Regions from separate parts of the Homo sapiens genome. Here region 1 is linked to region 2. The links come from fine-mapping of genetic effects on gene expression. A gene starts in region 2. The other region holds a variant in brackets. All regions are shown on one strand. Distances are from middle to middle. Region 1 overlaps FAM124B (family with sequence similarity 124 member B). Region 2 holds the start of FAM124B (family with sequence similarity 124 member B).

Region 1 (2,920 bases), 25 kb after region 2:
AATTTGGTTTTAATTTTTACTTAGGTTGCATAGCTCATCCCCCTGGACAATATGGACTGCTATTTACTCTTGAATGCTTTTTAATTTTCATGTGACCTCTTTTGGTAACTAGGCCTTGTTCACATACCCTCCTTGTGATTTTGTCTTTAAAGTTGTTTGTATCTGGAATGAGTGAAAATGCAAAGTGTTTTGAAAATTATAAACAGTTAATTTTGTTTTCCTGTTTAATGAGCCAAAATACTGGAAGCCAGAAAATCAGGTTGAACATGAATGCTAGGCTCTAGGGCTTTCCTGCTCATCTGCTTCTCATTTGTTTCTGCACTATGTCAAAGAGGACAGTGGTTCTTGTTACAAACCAAAGAGGAACATTGAGCACAGTGGGAAAATTGGACTGGTTGATCTGGTCACTGGAGCAGGACTTGGGTTCTTCTGGCCAGATTTTGACTCCCAGATTCCTTTACAAAACGCACTCATTCATTCATTTATATATGTTCATTCAATAAACATTTTTTGAATACCTACATTTGAATAAGACATTGTGTATATGGTACATATACATTCTGGGGCCATGAAACCCAAAAAGTGTTTATGGTTTCACCACTCTGATAAATTCATTCTACCAACTTTTAAAAAGATACTGAATTCCAAATATATTCCTCCAAAAACTTTTTCCACAGTTGAGGCCCACACTGGCCACATAATGGTGTAATAAGCATTTGCAACCTGCAGATGGAGACTGGGCATATTATGAATTGCAATTATAATTGCAATGGACAAATTCTCGTTGCCCATATGCTGAATTTTTTGGATATGTCTGTACACACATGTTTAAAAATCCCGAGGCCTGTGTTTCAGTTCATTTATAAGGTTATTCAATTCCACGAACTTCACTCTCAGAACAGATGTTACATAAGAGTGTAAATGTTGATTTAGCTGGATCTTTTGGAGACTTGGAGACTTACTACACCTAACTGGAGACAGAGATGAGTTCAGTCCTAAAGTCAAATCTTGCAAAAGTGAGTCTAGGCTGATTTTGGGTGCTCTTCTCCGCAAAAGGGATAGAAACGGAGGAGAGTTGTAAATGGACAAAGACAAGACTCCTCAATTGATATTTTTTGTCCTTAAAACATCAACATATTCTCATTCCCATTTTGTCTCTCTCTCCCCTAGACTACAATTTGATTTTAGAAAACGGGATGAAGAGCTTAACTTTGGTATAGCTTTCTATAATAAGAGTTAAAACAAAAAAGGAAGTTGAACTACTGAACTTTGAATAAGCACAGCAGGAAGAAGTTTTGAAATTTCCTTCCCACTTTTTTTTTGATGTTATCTAAATTTTCTTAATATAATACATGGGTAAGAATAAAAGTA[C/A]CTGAAAATTATAAAGAATATTGAGAAATGTGAATCAGGCACCTTACAAAATTGACTTGTAAAATAATATACCCTTAAAATGTCATCTATTCTATCCTACTTGTATTATTCAGGGTTCCCTAGAGGAACAGAACTAATAGGATAGATAGATGTATATATGAAAGGGAGTTTATTAAGGAGTATTGACTCACACAATCACAAGGTGAAGTCCCACAATAGGCTGTCTGCAAGCTGAAGAGCAAGGAAGCCAGTCCAAGTCCCAAAACCTCAAAAGTAAGGAAGCTGATAGAGCAGCCTTCGGTCTATGGCCGAAGGCCCTAGAACCCCTGGCAAATCACTGGTGTAAGTCCAAGAGTCCAAAGCTGAAGAACTTGGAGTCTGATGTTCAAGGGCAGGAAGCATCCAGCACAGGAGAATGATGAAGACCAGAAGACTCAGCCAGTCTAGTCCTTCCACATTCTTCTGCCTGCTCTATTTTAGCCACGCTGGCAGCTGATTAGATGGTGCCCACCCAGACTGGGGGTGGGTCAGCCTCTCCCAGTCCACTGACTCAAATGTTAATTTCCTTTGGCAACAGCTTCACAGACACACCCAGGAACAATACTTTGCATCCTTCAATCCAATCAAGTTGACCCTCAATATTAACCATCACACTACTCAACACAGGAATTCAATTTACAACATGATGGGATGGAAATACCAGTGAACTGGGTGGGGAGGCCCAGATTTTGGTTTCACTTTTAAATTTACTATTGATGTGACCTTGAGCATGTCAGGCTCCTTTGTCCTCTGTTGCTTTATCAACTGTAACAAAAGATTGTTAGGGGAATCAAGATGTTGTATATGAAAGCATCTGGATTTCATGAAGCATTATAAATGTGTGAGTTTTTTATGATTATTGTATTATATTGTATATTATATAATATAGTGTATTATTAATACCATTGGTCCTTCGGACCCACAGTTTAAAAATATCATGAGAACAAAGGACTTCTTTTGAAACAAGTTTTAGTGAAATCAATGAGGCAACAAAAAATAAATCCACCTTTCTAAGATTTGTACTACATGTGCCATTTACTTTATGTTTCTATAGCTAAGAGGAAAATTATTTATAACAAATAATCAAATGCATCCCAAAGTTCAATAGAGATTTTATACAACAGGGATAAACTATGAACTAGCTCAATCCAATTTATCAAATTAATTAGACTTAATTAAATTAGACGGTATTCCCTAAAATGTATAATGTGTCACTTTTTAAATCTGAAAGTCTTCTGATGATCAGAATACTTTATTTTTCTATAAATAAAATCCACATCTATTGTGGGTTCAGTCCTAGACTGCTGCAATAAAGCAGATATTGCAATAAAGCAAGTCCCATGAATTTTTTGGTTTCCCAGTGCATATAAAAGTTATGTTTACAATATACAGTAGCCTATTAAGTGTGCAATAGCATTATGTCTGAAAAAAACCAATGTACATACTTTAATTAAAAAATATTTTATTTCTAAATGCTAATGATCATCTGAGCCTTCAACGAGTCATAATC
Region 2 (2,920 bases):
TAATTTTTTACAGCTCTTTTTGAAGTACATTTTTTTTCTTTGAGACAGGGTCTTGCTCTGTTGTCCAGGCTGGAGTGCAGTGGCATGAATTTAGGTCAGCACAGCCTGGAACTCCTGGGCTCAAGCGATTGTCCTGCTTTGGCCTCCCAAAGTGTTGAAATTACAGTTGTGAGCCACTTCGCCTGGTCCAATTGCCTCTTTTAAAAAGAATTGTGTTTAGAAAAAGTGCTTGTTCATACCTGTTGAGGAGCACAGCTATCAGGAGAGCAAATGATTTTTTAAAAATATTTATTTATTTATTTATTTTTATTATTTTTTATTTTCTGAGACGGAGTCTTGCTCTATCACCCAGGCTGGAGTGCAGTAGTGCGATCTGCAACCTCCACTTGCTGGATTCAAGTGATTCTTGTGCCTCAGCCTCCTGAGTAGCTGGGATTACAGGCATGCTCCACTTTGCCCGGCTAATTTTTGTGTTTTTAGTACAGACGGGGTTTTGCCATGTTGCCTAGGCTGGTCTCGAACTCCTGACCTCAGGTGATCCACCCGCCTCGGCCTCCCAAAGTACTAGGATCAAGGCGTGACGACTATGCGTGGCCACAAATAATTTTTAAATCAATATTTAGAACACATTTAGGGTGAGTGTTTAGAGCTTGACAACTTTCTCATTGAAGATTATTCCGTTTAAGATTCAACAGCTCAAGAGTCTGCAAATCTAGATCCTTAACCAGAACTTGCTTTTATATCTTTTCCTTACAAGAAGAATACCCAGGCTGGGACTTCAAGGCCCCAGAGAGGCAGTGCAGCAAGTTCCTGGGTTCAAATCATCCTTCAGCTACTTCTTAGCTGTGAGACCTTGGGCAAGTTACCTAGCCTTTCTATGCCCCAGTTTCTTCATCTGTAATTTGGGGCTAGTAATCTCTTCTTCATAGGTTTGTTGCAAGATTAAATTAATTTACATTAAGGGCCAGGTGTGGTGACTCATGCCTGTAATCCCAGCACTTTGGGAGGCCAATGCGGGCAGATCACCTGAGGTCAGGAGTTCGAGACCAGTCTGGCCAACATGGCAAAACCCAGTCTCTACTAAAAATACAAAAAAATTAGCTGGGCGTGTTGGCGCACTTATAATCCCAGGTACTGGGGAGGCTGAGGCAGGGGAATCTCTTGAACCTGGGAGGTGGAAGTTGCAGTGAGCCAAGATCACGCCACTGCACTCCAGCCTGGGCGACAGAGCAAGACTCCATCTCCAAAACAAAACAAAACTAATTACTTTAAGAATTAGAACAGTTTATGACTGGTACATAGTAGATCCTCATTAGACACTAAAAATTATAATTACAATTGTTAATTATAATTATTTATTATTATAATTATATGAGCAATTATAGGAAAGCTCTCACTCTTTCTAAAGAATTTGCGTGAATAAAGGAAGACTAATTTTCTCAATGTCTTTTTAGTACACTCAGAATTTTCGGTACAGCAAATAATTTTCAGTGAAGTCAAAATTATTTAGATAAAGTCTTCTCTTCGTGCCCTAGCAGAAAATGTTCAGAAACAAAATGAAATAAAGAGACAAAGGAAAAAAAAAACTGGCAAAGGGTCAGGTTTTGAGAATTGTTTTCAAGAAGTCATTGTATTCAGATTGGTGGAGCAGGCTACTGTAAACCGTAAGTAGGAAATGAGAACCCGTTGTAAGTTGATAAAATGGATGTCTTTTCAACTAAACAGATTGCTATCAGCCTAACAGAGCCAACTCATGTTCCTTTTCGGCCGGTCATTTCCTGTACTAAGTGTCTATAAGAGCCGCCCATTTGGGTGTTTCTCAGGATTATAGGTTTTTAGGTCACGCAGAAACCCTGGGGAACGCCTGAAAAGGCTAAACACAAGCAGTTACATTATGCACAAGCTGGATGACGTGACCCCGCTGCTGCTGTGTGGAGAGGGAGGCTGCTGAACCCGAGCTGGTGTGAGCTTCTCTTGCCGTAAGTCCACGGGTGGCCAGGAGCACGTGTTAGTCTGGTTAAGAGCTCTGCTCAGAAGTAGCCGCTGCAGCTGAAGGTTTTCAGGCGGGCTGAAGGCTGGGCCGCTTCTTCATTCATTTCAGAAACTTGAACAGTGGGCCTTCTACACACGCTGTCTTTGTCAGCCTCAGGCAGTTCCTCCATGGATGAGACACAGGGGCCTCTGGCCATGACTGTCCATCTTCTTGCCAACTCTGGGCACGGCTCCCTTCTGCAGAGGACTCTGGACCAGCTCCTGGATTGCATTTGCCCAGAGGTCCGGCTCTTTCAGGTGTCTGAACGGGCCAGTCCTGTGAAATACTGTGAAAAGTCCCATTCCAAGCGGTCCCGGTTTCCAGGGATGTCCGTGTTGCTCTTCCTGCACGAAAGCCCGGGAGAGGATAGGCTATTTCGCGTCCTGGACTCTCTCCAGCATTCGCCATGGCAGTGCTACCCCACCCAGGACACTCGGGGAAGGCTGTGTCCCTACTTTTTTGCCAATCAGGAGTTCTACAGCCTGGACAGTCAGCTGCCCATCTGGGGGGTGAGGCAGGTGCACTGTGGCTCCGAGATCCTGAGGGTGACGCTGTACTGCAGTTTTGATAACTATGAAGACGCCATCAGACTCTACGAGATGATCCTGCAGAGAGAAGCGACCTTGCAAAAGAGCAATTTTTGTTTCTTCGTGCTCTATGCCTCCAAGAGCTTTGCTCTGCAGCTCTCCCTGAAGCAGCTGCCCCCGGGAATGTCAGTGGACCCCAAAGAGTCTTCGGTGCTGCAGTTTAAGGTTCAAGAGATCGGCCAGTTAGTGCCTCTGCTACCCAATCCATGCATGCCTATCAGCAGCACCAGGTGGCAGACTCAGGACTACGATGGCAACAAGATTCTGCTTCAGGTATTTCTGTTTTGTCTCAGATCTTGTA

Evidence for each region. PIP is the estimated chance that this variant, and not a neighbour inherited with it, causes the effect.
Region 1: its variant is the best candidate, but not a certain one, in a credible set for the expression of FAM124B in whole blood (INTERVAL, PIP 0.51).

What each region holds. Positions count from the first base shown.
Region 1 is chr2:224,376,299-224,379,218 of GRCh38, reverse strand. It overlaps FAM124B (family with sequence similarity 124 member B), which reads left to right. Exons shown (of 2, transcript NM_001122779.2): 2 at 1-521. Among named protein-coding and RNA genes, the nearest start is that of FAM124B, 24 kb to the left of the region's middle. The variant C/A (reference allele first, on the strand shown) is at 1,372.
Region 2 is chr2:224,401,009-224,403,928 of GRCh38, reverse strand. FAM124B (family with sequence similarity 124 member B) reads left to right here and starts at 1,822. Exons shown (of 2, transcript NM_001122779.2): 1 at 1,822-2,892. The coding sequence starts at 2,161.